Homo sapiens: one gene and its partners. The protein of the gene in region 1 purifies or fractionates together with the protein of each later gene. This does not show direct contact. Each region holds a gene or a part of one and is shown in the gene's direction. Other genes may lie near its edges.

Region 1 (3,500 bases):
CCCCTGGGGAGCTTAAATTTGTGATCTGTGGTCTCAGGTCACAAATTTGTATGTATAGTTCTTGGTATTTATTGTAAAAGGGAATTTAGAAGAAAATGATTGTATTTAAAATGATTAGTAGTCAACAGAAATTGAATCATATTTTTGACTCTTGTTTTAGGTGCATTGATGCTCTGCATAGCTGAGATATTCGCTTACTCTAGATTACCATTGTTTTCCATTTGAATCTTTTCTGTGCCTGAGATAGTATATATTTAGTTGGAGTCTTGTAGAGAATAAGACATTAGTCCTATCACTGGTTTCCAAACATGTTGAAGTTGTGGATTCCCAGCCCTACTTACGAATAGGAGATTAAATTGGAAGTAGAGAAATGGTAGCTAAACATCTGTCTGATCATATCTTCTTTCAAAACAACTTCTAGAAATGACTCATTGAATGAACTACGGACTTCCTTAGAACTTAATATTAAAGTGGTTAGATTCGTTGGCCTTAATTTTGGCTAACTGGATTCCGTGGATCAATTTCTTCTTACCTTCATCTTGAAATCTGAAATTCTGACTATAAAACTTTTTATATTTCTGTTTGGTTTTAAGAATAAATATAGAAAACATTTGCAGATAAACATAATTTAACTCTATCATAAAATAGAAACAAATCAACATTGGTAAAGAATGACCCACCCATAAGATTGGCAAGTGATTACGAGCCTGTACCTTTAGAAAATTATGAAACTGAAGATAGTTTATATTTTATTTTTAATGCAAAAGCAAAAGTAAGCTTCTCATTTTTGATTGAAAGCAGTCAATAAAGTTTGAAATGAGTAAGTCCTAAAATAGGATATATATGCATTATTAGAATTATGGTGATAACCACCAGAAGAACCATATGTAGAAATGTTAGGTTGAACTATATGGAATTACCAGTTTTGTAGGTCCAAAACACACAGTCAAATATTAGCAATTTCATGGTTTTACCTAGTTAAAGTGTTGATATTTGAGACTTGGGCATAGGGTTGGGTGTATGATAGGAGACTTATTTACATTTGGTTATCTGCTACATTAATTGAATGTTTTAAAGAATGTTTACATCTTTTTAAAGATGCAGACATGTATTACTTCTATTAACCAGACAGATTAGCCATGCTCTCTACCCCTATCCCCCACCAGGCAAAGTAAAATGGGGTTAACTTTAGATCTTGATCAAAAGTTAGTTTAGTTAGGCCATATTGCCAGGAAATAATTTAATGAGAAGTGTCAGCCTGAGACTTTGGTGGTATTTTGTGCTTAATCTGACTTTGAATAAGTGGACCAAGATGTGTTCATTGATTGTCCGTAGTTTAGCCCTTTGCTAGATGTTATGGTGAATTTACAAAACAGTAGTAATAATATTAGAATAAGTAAGTAAAATAACATGTAAGTAAAATAAAAATTAGAATAATTAAATAAAATAGTTGATACAAAGGATGGTTGATCACTTGTGTAGTTCAAGTCTTTAATAGGAAATGAGATTAGATTGATGTAGAACAATTTCATTGAGGAGAGGAGGTAAGAGTGGAACTATGAACAGAAGGATTTAGATAAACAGCAATCTTGGTGAGGCAAAAATTAAAAGTGTTGAGACTTGGAATTGTTTTTTTATATTTGGGGATCAGTGTTGAGTAAAAGTAGAAGAGATAAGCCTGGAAAAATAGAATAAGGTCAAATTGTGGCTGTATATACGAGTTAATGGTTTCTCAACCTTGGCGCTATTGGCATTTTGTGTTGGATAATTTTTTGTTGTGGAGGCTTGTCCTGTACCCAGTAGGATGTTTAGCAACAACAACCTTTTCCTCTACTAGATGCCAGTAGCATCTTTCCTACCTGCCCCAGCCTCACCTCCACCTCCACTTCCACTGTTGTGGCAACTATTGTTTCCAGACATTGCCAGTTGTCCTCTGGGGGAAAAAAATGTTCCCGTTTGAGTACCACTGGCTCATACAAACCAAGATGACATAGCTGGAACTAGAATCGGAAGTGGAGGATGAGTTGTGTTGACTGATTGGCTGTCTTCAAGACATATACGGTTTTGGTCAAACATAGCCCTGGGATAGCTGTAAATAACTAGTAGAATAGTGATTGATCTGTTATCTATTGTGTATATTTATAGTACTAACACTGTTGTACCAGATCAATGAACAGAATTAGATTGATGAAATTGATGAACAAATTTATATTGCATATATTGTATATTAGCATAAAACTAAATTAAATCATATTGATTTTGTTATGGGGAGAACATTGGATATAATGGTATTGATGGTTGATATTAATTAAATTAATTTTTATTTTATTATTTGATATTGTAAAGGGATTCTTGAAGGTTGGTGTTTTAAATTCTAATTTTAAAATTTATTTTATTTTTTTGTCTGGCCATTACCACTCAGAGGAGTTTTTAAAAATTCTGTAATGGTAAAAAATTTCTTAACTGTCTGTTAGTTGAAATAGCTGTTGCTTGGAGAGATTCTGATATATTGTATGTTTGAGAAAGGTTATCTTTTATTTAACCAAATGGGAAGTAGGATTTCAATTTTAAAGATATATTTTTTTCAAACGTAAGAAAGGTTTATTGTAGACTTGAAATTAACTCTTTCTGCCTAAGATAATTTCTCCAGTATATTTCTTTTTTTCCTTTCCTTTCTCTCTCTTTTTTTTTTTTTTTTGGAACATAGCACAGAGTCATTCTTTGATGACTAGGAAATTTTGTCTTTGCAGCCTATGGAAAAAATAGCCAAGGGCCTTGATTTTTCTCATTGTCATTATTACCCAGCTATGGTTGTAAATAAATATGGTTTATCTCCATTCCTCCAGTGCATATGTACAAAAAAGAAATAGTGACTAATTAGATGAAGAAGTTATTTTTCAGATATCAGAGAAAGATAAGATTTGATGTATTGCTGATCCCTATAGAAAGATAAAATTTGATATATTGCTGATCCCTGTAGTTGGAGTCTGACTAATGTACTATATTTGGAGAATGAGGGGTTGGGTAAGCTATTAGGAGTTGGTTTTGTGGAAAAATGTCCATTCTTCTAATAATAGTTAACAAACATAAAACATTAAAAATTTTTTAAAAAATTGCTTTCTATTCAGGCATGGTTATAAATCAAAAACAGAATCAAGGAGTCTCAATTTACCTCTCATTTGAAAAAATAATTAATTAATTGGCATTGGCAACTACCAAAACAAAATCACAAAAATCTCTGACATTTTGTAAAATTTACCAAGTAATAGCAAAGTTGGATTGGTCTCAATTTTGATCAGCTACCCACACTTCTGCCCCAGTTAATCTTACTTTTGCGTCTATCGTGAAGTTTTGATTGATAAAAAGCCTTCTAGAAGGTTGATCCAGAAGAAAAGTACCTTTTCTTTCATCTTCATCTCCTAGCTCTCTTAATTATGGCATTGCTTCCCTTCTAGAGCCTAAGGTGTTTCAGTTTTCTTTAGTCAGTGTGCATAAAAAAT
Region 2 (3,500 bases), on another chromosome or scaffold:
CTGAAATAAGAGTTCACAAGCATCTAAAGAAAAGATCAGTGTTCCCATATGAAAAGAACTGGTATGATAGAAATACCACCAGGGACACCTAATCTAGAGGTTAGGGAAGGCTTCCTGGAGGAAGTGGTTTTAAAGCTGAGATAAGGCTTAATATGGTGGCTTGTGCCTATAATCCCAGTACTTCGGGAGGCCAAGGCAGGAGGATTGCTTGAGTCCAAGAGTTTGATACCAGCCTTGGGCAACATAGCAAGACCCTGTCTCTACAAAACATAAAAAAGATAGTTGAACGTGGTGGCACACACCTGTAGTCTCTGCACCTCAGGAGACTGAGGTGGGAGGATCACTTGACCCAGGGAGGTTGAGGCTGTAGTAAGCTGTGGTTTCACTGGTGTACTCTAGCCTGGGTAACAGAGTGAGAACCTGTCTCTAAAAAAGTAAATACATAAAAATTTATTTTAATTATTATGTTTTAAAAAGGGGTCAGTGGGCCTGGGCGCAGTGGCTCACACCTGTAATCCCAGCACTTTGGGGGGCCGAGGTGGGCAGATCACCCGAGGTCAGGAGTTTGAGACCAGCCTGCCCAACATGGCAAAACCCCGTCTCTACTAAAAATACAAAAAATTAGCCAGGTGTGGTGGCAGGCGCCTGTAATCCCAGCTACTTGGGAGGCTGAGACAGGAGAATCGCTTGAACCCGGGAGGCGGAGGTTGCAGTGAGCCGAGATCACGCATCTGCACTCCAGCCTGGGCAACAAGAGAGAAACTCCGTCTCAAAAAATAAAAATAAATAAAAATAAAAAGGGGTCAGTGAAGAGACATTTAAGCAGAAAGACATGCTAAGCTTTGTGTTTTGGAAAATTCAGTCTAATTACAGCATGTCACTAGATACCAGGATAGGGCCACTGAGTGAGGATGGGGAAAAACAGGTCAGGGAGACCAGTAAAGAGGCTGTTCAATTATCCAGGTGATATAAGAATGAGAATTCGGGCAGTAGCAGTAAGGAAGATGAGAAGGAAAAAGATTTGAGACACAGTAAGTTTCCATATCCCCACTCATGCTCCGTTCCTGGTAAAATGGTGAAAAAGAAAGTGTGTGTGTGTGCGTGTGTGTGTGTGTGTGTGTGTGTGATCACGCGCACATATGACATTGTAGGGGTTGAGTTGTCTGGAAAACAGTGCTTAGAAGATATGAATTGAAAGCTCATAAAGAGCTATTTGGAGTTCTCTTAAGCAAACTGGGAAGTAAAGTAACTAATGAGAAAATCTCTCAAGTCACTTCTCATCTGGAGGCGAGATAGCACAGTGCACCACCCTGAGAGTTGGGAGAGATCTTCCTTTGTCCCGGATCTGCATTGTCTATTGTTTTGACCCTTGTTTTATCATTTAACCTCTCTGAACTTTGTTTATTTGTCCAACTTAATACAAGGATGATGAAGCTTGCCCAGCCCATTCTGAGTTGATCTTAAGCTCAGCATGTACTGGGGTGTGACCCAAACAGGGAAGTTGACATCCTCTCTACTAAAGTTAATAGAATGAGAATGTTCAGGGTCATTGTTCAGTCCCAGCAGTCTGGTGTTCAGTGTGGACGTTGGCCTGTTGGCTCACACCAGGCAGAGGGGGTGAGTAGTCGTTCACGCTGCTTTGCGGCAGGGACGTGGGGTTTCAGAATGGGTTAGGGTGATACTAGGTTATTTCAAAGATGATCCCTTCCAACTCTGAGACTGGGTCCTGTGTCACAGGCCTTAGTGAGAGTTAGATGAGATCATGGCTACAAAAGCACTTGGAGAACAAACATTCTAGACAAGTAAAGGTATTATTATCAGTAGACCATGTGACATTAGCTCATAGTTTTTAAATGTTTAACTTTCTTGCATATCCCCGTGAGGCGGAAAATAACTTCCAAGTTCCTACATGCTGGTAGATGATTTCGTTTCATTTCATAAAGAGACCAAACCTTTCCTCATACCATCTTAACTGCATTTTGCTTTTCTTATTTTATTTCATATGTTTAACAATGACTGGAAACATTTGACCTGCCAAGACTTGAATTTGGGCATCTGGGGTTTCTCCCACTGTCCATGATAGCATCACCAGCAAGTGGAGCACAGGCTGTACATTCCCCGTGTGAGCTTTCGGAGTGAGGAATGTTCTCCACCTCCTGGAAAAAACAGGGCCCAACTCACAGGAGTTAAAAGGAAACTGATTTTAGAACCCTCTTACAGTACTGTGACTTTTCACTCATCAGTGTTGGGAACTGGTTCTCTTTCTCTTAAAAGAACCCCCTGGGGCTTTAAGCTTAAACGATGACAGTGACTCAGAGTGGCTCATGCTTATTGCACCTTGACGCTGTGCCAAGTGCTGTTTTAGCCCTTTACGTGTAAGATACACCACAGCCTGTGAGTAAGCATTTGCTTTGTAGATTAGGAAACCAAGGAACATGCAGTAAATAACTGGCCTAGAGTCACACAGTTAAGCTGGAAGTTGGACCTTGGCATGTGACTCCAAAGCCCTGCCTGAAGCGCTGCTCCTCCCCTCCTTGCAAGCAGAGACCTGCCACACAGAGCCCACAGAGGTCTGAAGAAGGCAGGATTTCCTGTTCGTAGCTCAGGAGAGCAGACAGTGGTGTTAAGCAGGAAAAGCACATTAGAATTCCAGTTTACTTACAGTGCTCTCCACACCAGGAAGGAAATGCCCCAAATATGAACATGGCTTCCACTAAGATAAATGGCCCCAATCTAGGGGATTCCCATTTGCATCAGAAAAACTGTTAATATAGAGATCAGAGTTTTTACCTGCTACATCTTTCATATTTTCTTTCCTTAGGTTAAAAAGATCAAGTGGCATGAGCAGCCTTTTGGGGAAAATTGGTGCCAAGAAGCAGAAAATGAGCACCCTTGAGAAGTCCAAACTGGACTGGGAGAGCTTCAAGGAGGAAGAGGGGATTGGTGAAGAACTGGCCATCCATAATCGAGGGAAAGAGGGGTAAGAAGGAGTAGGTTTTATGCCTTGGAAAATCCTCAGAACCCTGAAATCAAATGATTTATTGGAGACAAACTGCCCACTGTAAGCAAGCAGGAGCTTTTCATGATGGAACTAAAAATGTGAGCACTTTGGTTTGTCAGTAAGTCTCTGTTCCAGTGTGGGGCAGGGCCTGTCACTGGGAAGGCCACTGCGGGTGGAGGGAAGGCGGGGCATGTGAGGAGTACTCTCAGGGGCCAGTCACATCTGCCAAGCTGAATTTGCTGAATTACAGCTCCAGTGAACTGTAAGTTGCCTAGTGGTTGGATCTGGCCTGTGGTAGCAGCCTTGGCCTTATCTGAATCATTTGTCCTTCTGAGAAACCAAACTAGTTCAGATCCGTCAAAAACTGAGCCAATGGAATGCCTAGATGTTGCATTATTGTGAATTTTTTTTTGTCTGTGTCATTATGGCCTGGGGTGGGGCTTTACCCTTGGCTATAGCCTGTGTGATAGGCCAGGCCCTCAGACAGCACCCCAGGCCA
Region 3 (3,500 bases), on another chromosome or scaffold:
AAATGAGGTCTTAGGAATGACAATGTGAATAAACAGTTTTAAAACAACAACGAAATGAAATCACCAAGAAGCGTGGCTTACTTTTACACTGGAATCCAGCACCAGCCCTTCATCATGAAAGGTTCTAAAAGACACCCTGTGTGATCGGGTCTCTGCTGGTTTTAAGGGAGTTGTCTCTCGGCGAGGCCTCGCTATAGACTGCTGATGAGTTTGAAGACACCCTGTGCGGTCGGGTCTCCGCTGCGTTTAAGCGAGCTGTCCTCGCTGTCTCTCGGTGCTGATGAGTTTGCACTTGTGTGTTTCTTTCTTCTCTCAATCCAGGTCTGGTCTTTAGAGCAGCCCGAATGGCACTGCAAAATAGACGAGGGCTCAGCCGGGCTGGTGGCCTCGTGCTGGAGCCCGGACGGGCGCCACATTCTCAACACCACGGAATTCCATGTAAGTGTCAGCCCCAAGACACCTTACTGGCCATGTGATCCTGTCCTCTGCTCTCGAAACAGCTGGGGAGTGCGAGAGGGGGTGTGTTTGGAGTATGCTAGTCTCCCCTTATCCTCAGGGGATGCATTCTAAGACCACCAGGGGATTCAGATTGTACCAAACCCTGTATTTCCTGTGTTTTTTCCTATACAGCATACCTGTGATACATTTAATTTATAAATTAGATACAGTAAGAGATTAGCAACAATCATAGTATAGAACAAGGATAACAATATACTGTTTATAATTGCATGGATAGAAGATTTGGTCTTACTGAAGATCTGAGCAACAACCTCAGCATAGGATTTTTTCTTTCCTTGTTGCGTCAAGAACTTTCAGCTCGTCATTTAAAGGAAGCACTTTGTGGCTTCTCTTTGGCGTATCCAGATTGCGAGCCCCACCGCCCGTGCTTTGGGCTGCTACTGAGTCAGATAAGGGTGTCGTGAACACAGGCACTGTCTGCTGCCCTGGGTCTGATGACTGAGGTGGCTCCCGAGTGGCTGGTAGATTGGCGGGGTTGGAGGGAGCCGGGGAGCGTATATAGTGGTGTGTATATTTTAGGTCAGAGCATTATAAGCCACTAAGTATTATTGTCTGATCTTTTGTCCAGTTTTGAAGAAAAAACATTTTAAAAATCTTAATTTAGATTTTTTAGGATTTCGGCACTCCCTTTAATTCAACGATAGAAAATGCGCTGTGATATGAGCCGGCTCGCACCTTTCCTTCAGGAGCCTGGCCTGGGGGCGTGGCTCGGGGCGGTCGGCAGCCGCCCATTCACCTGCTGTAGGTACCGCACAACAGCCTCCGTGCTGAGCTCAGCGCGGAGGGGAATGTTGACATCCGAGAATAAATCAGAGGGATCTGGGATAGGAGACTGCATTTTAAGTTAAAATTAGGCATATGTCAAGTGTTTAGATACCAGGTCTTTGGTGTCCGCAGTGTCTTTTTAAGATACAGAAAAATGGACGAATTCCTTTAATAATGTGCTTTTCTGATGGAGTTGGATCCCAGTGTTTGGGCCCAAGTCCACTGAGTGCTCATAGCTGTCTGGGCTGCTGGCTGCACCTCGGTAACCCGCCCATCCCGCTGCGCCGCGCACACCACGGGGCAACCCGCCCATCCCGCTGCGCCGCGCACACCACGGGGCAACCCGCCCGTCCCGCTGCACGGCGCACACCACGGGGCAACCCGCCCGTCCCGCTGCGCCGCGCACACCACGGGGCAACCCGCCCGTCCCGCTGCGCCACGCACACCACGGGGCAACCCGCCCATCCCGCTGCGCCGCTCACACCACACTGCAGCCCTCCCGTCCCGCTGCGCCGCGCACACCACGTAGATGATGGCACCTGGGAGGATTTCTCCCAGCGTGTGGCTGCAGATGCTCTGTAGGGTTTCATTCGGCTTTTTTCAAGCTGGCATCGGCTGGGATAAAGTTTTATCCAGCCATGAGGGTTGCTGAATCAACTGCTTCAGATGGCTGGATGGCTTTACATATTTTTCAGTTTCGATTTTAAAAAATACTCCAAATCTAATGTCTGCTATTATGGGCTGTCAGAGAATAAGACAGGAAACAAAGGCCCACCAATGTCTCCGCACTATGTATTGACATTGGAAGGCACTTTCGGCCTGAGTGTTTCAGAGAGGATAATTTGAGCTTTTCACGCAGCCGTGTCTAACAGTCTTCAGGCCTGTAATGCTTTGGGCCCAAATCTGCCCTTGAGAAGGGCTCATGTCATGGGGTCAGCCTTGTTGTATTATCTTATTAAATGGCCCAGAAGGAAAACTACCATCTATAGAGTTTAGAAACCTTAAAAGATGGATAAAAGCCTGGTTTTGTTGAGCATCCCATGTCACACACACCAATATTGAAAACACCTTTGCTACAGAACAAACTGATTTTTCATAGAGTACATTTAGATGACATTGTTCAACCTAAGACTAAGGTCATGACCACTTTGCTGGTGGCCTTAGAGGAAACGTTAAGACCAGGTGGTGGATGAGGACCGGTAACCTCAAGGCATGGGGCATCTTGACCAAGATGTCAAAATGTGTCTCCAGCTTTGCATGCGAACTTTAATGGTTGCAAGTGAGGAAACAAAACCGGAATTCCAGACGTGCTGGCCAGGAAGTGAGCTGCGGGCACCGTCCATCAGTCTCATTCACAAGAGCAAGGACCAGACCCGTTCGAGGATTAGCGGGGCCACTAGGTCCCCTTCTGAAGGCGCGACCCCATGTCCGGGGCTCAGCGGGGCCACTGGATCCCCTTCCGAAGGCGCGACCCCATGTCCGGGGCTCAGCGGGGCCGCTGGGTCCCCTTCCGAAGGCGCGACCCCATGTCCGGGGCTCAGCGGGGCCGCTGGGTCCCCTTCCGAAGGCGCGACCCCATGTCCGGGGCTCAGCGGGGCCGCTGGGTCCCCTTCCGAAGGCGCGACCCCATGTCCGGGGCTCAGCGGGGCCGCTGGGTCCCCTTCCGAAGGCGCGACCCCATGTCCGGGGCTCAGCGGGGCCGCTGGGTCCCCTTCCGAAGGCGCGACCCCATGTCCGGGGCTCAGCGGGGCCGCTGGGTCCCCTTCCGAAGGCGCGACCCCATGTCCGGGGCTCAGCGGGGCCGCTGGGTCCCCTTCCGAAGGCGCGACCCCATGTCCGGGGCTCAGCGGGGCCGCTGGGTCCCCTTCCGAAGGCGCGACCCCATGTCCGGGGCTCAGCGGGGCCGCTGGGTCCCCTTCCGAAGGCGCGACCCCATGTCCGGGGCTCAGCGGGGCCGCTGGGTCCCCTTCCGAAGGCGCGACCCCATGTCCGGGGCTCAGCGGGGCCGCTGGGTCCCCTTCCGAAGGCGCGACCCCATGTCCGGGGCTCAGCGGGGCCGCTGGGTCCCCTTCCGAAGGCGCGACCCCATGTCCGGGGCTCAGCGGGGCCGCTGGGTCCCCTTCCGAAGGCGCGACCCCATGTCCGGGGCTCAGCGGGGCCGCTGGGTCCCCTTCCGAAGGCGCGACCCCATGTCCGGGGCTCAGCGGGGCCGCTGG
Region 4 (3,500 bases), on another chromosome or scaffold:
GCGCCACTGTACTCCAGCCTGGGAGACAGAGTGAGACTCTGTCTCAAAAACAAAAACAAAAACAAAAAAACACAAAAATAAACCCACAGTGTTTATTAATCACTTACTCTTTAATTGTAACAATTCTATGAAGTAAGAGCAATTATTTTTTACTGTTGAGGGTACTGAAGACTTGCGAGGTTAAATCACTTGGCCTAGGTAACAGTAGTCCATCAGTAGTAATCAGTAGAGTTGAGATTTGAACTCAGTCACTTAACCACTGTCTCTCAACTTCCACCTAAAGGGAAATTGTGCATTTGGTGTGAAGTATTGTGTTCATGATCGAACATGAATAAATGAAAAGATAATTGAGTAAATGTTATTACTTTTAATTAATATGAAGGCAGTAAGAACTTTTTATTCTTTCAGAATGGAACAAAAGTGGGACTTTTAAAATGTTGCCCTGTAAGAAGAGAAGAACTACAGTGACAGAGTCCCTACAGCATAAAGGCAATCAAGAGGAAAACAACGTAGACCTAGAATCAGCCGTTAAACCAGAATCTGACCAGGTTAAGGACTTGAGTTCGGTGTCACTATCCTGGGATCCAAGTCATGGCAGAGTAGCTGGCTTCGAAGTACAGTCTTTGCAGGATGCAGGAAATCAGCTTGGTATGGAGGATACATCTCTGAGCTCTGGAATGCTCACCCAGAACACAAATGTACCAATTCTAGAAGGTGTTGATGTGGCCATCTCTCAGGGAATCACCCTACCTTCCTTGGAGTCTTTTCACCCCCTTAATATACACATTGGTAAAGGAAAACTCCACGCTACTGGCTCAAAGAGAGGGAAAAAAATGACACTCAGGCCTGGGCCAGTTACCCAAGAAGACAGATGTGATCATCTTACCCTAAAGGAGCCTTTTTCAGGAGAGCCTAGTGAAGAAGTCAAGGAAGAAGGAGGTAAGGTATACAAGGTCTCTAGGTTACATTCTTGTCAATACCACTTTGCCATTGCTATTTCTGGATACCTTTACAGAGTAGTATTTCTGAAAGGGGATATTGATTTGGTACGGAATTGGAACTGCTGTGTTGCTAAGGGTCAACAGTGAACTTTTTTTTTTTCTTGAGACGGAGTCTTGCCATGTCACCAGACTAGAGTGCAATGGTGGGATCTTGACTCACTGCAGCCTCCACCTCCTGGGTTCAAGCGATTCTCCTGCCTCAGTCTCTCAAGTATCTAGGATTACAGGCATGCGCCACCACGCCAGGCTAATTTTGTATTTTTACCAGAGACGGGGTTTCACCATGTTGGTCAAGCTGGTCTCGAACTCCTGACCTCAGGTGATACGTTTGCCTTGGCCTCCCAAAGTGCTGGGATTACAGGTGTGAGCCACCGTGCCTGGCCAGCAGTGAACTTTATGAATGGATATAGACTTTCTTTTCCCCTCCCATTCGCTATATCCACTTCTGTACCCCTTTCTTCTTTCTTTTTTGAGACGGAGTCTCGCTCTGTCACCCAGGCCAGGGTGCAGTGGCGTGGTCTCGGCTCACTGCAAGCTCCGCCTCCCAGGTTCACGCCATTCTCCTGCCTCAGCCTCCCGAGTAGCTGGGACTACAGGCACCCACCACCATGCCCGGCCAATTTTTTTTGTATTTTTAGTAGAGGCGGGGTTTCACTGTGTTAGCCAGGATGGTCTCAGTCTCCTGACCTCGTGATCCGCCCGCCTTGGCCTCCCAAAGTGCTGGATTACAAGCGTGAGCCACTGCACCCAGCCATTGTATCCCTTTCATTCCATTCTCTCATCCTTTATTTGGTGTGTCTGGAGATGTGTATGGTCTTTTGTGATTGGGCAGCAGCTTAAAGGGGGAGACTACTGCCTGGGACACTGGGAAAGGCTCTACTGAGATGAATGACCCTTCCAATTTGAAAGATGAATTGCGGTTTAACAGAAAGTGGTATGGGCACATAGGCCAAGAACAGTGCACAGAGATAGACTGGCAGAAAAGGATGGTGACATGGTTGCTTGGAACAGGTGGTGGGAGATGACTTCTTTTTTTTTTTTTTTTTTTTTTGTGACAGTCTCGCTCTGTTGCCCAGGCTGGAGTGCAGTGGTGTGATCTTGGCTCACTGCAACCTCCACCTCCCATGTTCAAGTGATTCCCCTGCTTCAGCCTCGCGAGTAGCTGGGATTACAGGTGCCTGCCACCACGTCCAGCTAATTTTTTTATTTTTATTAGAGAGGAGGTTTCCCCATGTTGGCCAGGCTGGTCTCAAACTCCTGACCTCAGGTGATCCACGTACCTTGGCCTCCCAAAGTGCTGGGATTACAGGCGTGAGCCACCACGCCCTGCCAAGATGACTTTAGAGTAGTAGATTGTACTAAGGTTGTGAAAGGTTTTGTTTTTCATACCAAGGCATTTGAGCTTTTCCTGTAGGTAGGTGATAGTCATTTAAACGTCTAAGTAGAACACATTTATGCTTTAGAAAAGATACCAACTTCTCTTATTCATTTTTTTTTTGATACGGAGTCTCGCTTTGTCGCCCAGGCTGGAGTACAGTGGCGTGATCTCAGCTCACTGCAACCTCCACCTCCCCTGTTCAAGTGATTCTCCTGCCTCAGCCTCCTGAGTAGCTGGTATTACAGGCGCCCGCCACCGTGCTCAGCTAATTTTTGTATTTTTAGTGGAGATGGGGTTTCACCAGGTTAGCCAGCTTGGTCCTGAACTCCTGACCTCAGGTAACCCACCTGCCTCAGCCTCCCAAAGTGCTGGGATTACAGGCGTGAGCCACTGCGCCCGGCCTAGATTGTGAAGGTTTTTGTTTTTCATACTAAGGCATTTGAGCTTTTCCTGTAGGTAGGTGATAGTCATTTTTTTTTTTTGAGACGTAGTCTGGCTCTGTCGCCCAGGCTGGAGTGCAGTGGCGCAGTCTTGGCTCACTGCAAGCTCTGCCTCCTGGGTTCATGCCATTCTCCTGCCTCAGCCTCCCGAGTAGCTGGGACTACAGGTGTCTGCCACCATGCCCAGCTAATTTTTTGTATTTTTAGTAGAGACGGGGTTTTACCGTGTTAGCCAGGATAGTGTCAATTTCATGACCTCGTGATCCACCTGCCTCGTCCTCCCAAAGTGCTGGGATTACAGGCGTGTGCCACCGCGCCCGGCCCTTTTTTTTTTTTTTTTTTTGAGGTGGAGTCTCGCTCTGTTGCCAGGCTGGAGTGCAGTGGCACGATCTCATCTCACTGCAACCTCCGCCTCCCAGGTTCAAGCAATTCTGCCTCAGCCTCCCAAGTAGCTAGGACTACAGGCACACGCTGCCACGCTCAGCTAATTTTTTTTTTTTTTGTATTTTAGTTGAGACAGGGTTTCACCATGCTGGCCACGCTGGTCTCGAACTCCTGACCTCGTGATCCACCGACCTCGGCCTCCCAAAGTGCTAGGATTACAGGCGTGAACCACTGCACCCGGCCTATTCATTCATTTTGACTGTTAAGATGTTTTCTTTTTTGCCGCATTTTAAGTCC

Evidence for each region.
Region 2: the proteins of PHF14 (region 1) and CFDP1 fractionate together in Homo sapiens (co-fractionation; one large-scale study listed by BioGRID). This does not show direct contact.
Region 3: the proteins of PHF14 (region 1) and WRAP73 purify together in Homo sapiens (co-immunoprecipitation; one study listed by IntAct). This does not show direct contact.
Region 4: the proteins of PHF14 (region 1) and GON4L purify together in Homo sapiens (affinity purification with mass spectrometry, with the first as the bait; one large-scale study listed by BioGRID). This does not show direct contact.

The regions. Positions count from the first base shown.
Region 1 is NC_000007.14:10,976,872-10,980,371, forward strand, and holds part of PHF14 (PHD finger protein 14), read left to right. Parts: intron 1-3,500. UniProt on the Homo sapiens protein: Histone-binding protein. Binds preferentially to unmodified histone H3 but can also bind to a lesser extent to histone H3 trimethylated at 'Lys-9' (H3K9me3) as well as to histone H3 monomethylated at 'Lys-27' (H3K27ac) and trimethylated at 'Lys-27' (H3K27me3).
Region 2 is NC_000016.10:75,304,504-75,308,003, reverse strand, and holds part of CFDP1 (craniofacial development protein 1), read left to right. Parts: intron 1-2,821; coding exon 2,822-2,980; intron 2,981-3,500. UniProt on the Homo sapiens protein: May play a role during embryogenesis.
Region 3 is NC_000001.11:3,643,604-3,647,103, reverse strand, and holds part of WRAP73 (WD repeat-containing protein WRAP73), read left to right. Parts: intron 1-321; coding exon 322-438; intron 439-3,500.
Region 4 is NC_000001.11:155,850,715-155,854,214, reverse strand, and holds part of GON4L (GON-4-like protein), read left to right. Parts: intron 1-408; 5' UTR 409-434; coding exon 435-939; intron 940-3,500. UniProt on the Homo sapiens protein: Has transcriptional repressor activity, probably as part of a complex with YY1, SIN3A and HDAC1. Required for B cell lymphopoiesis.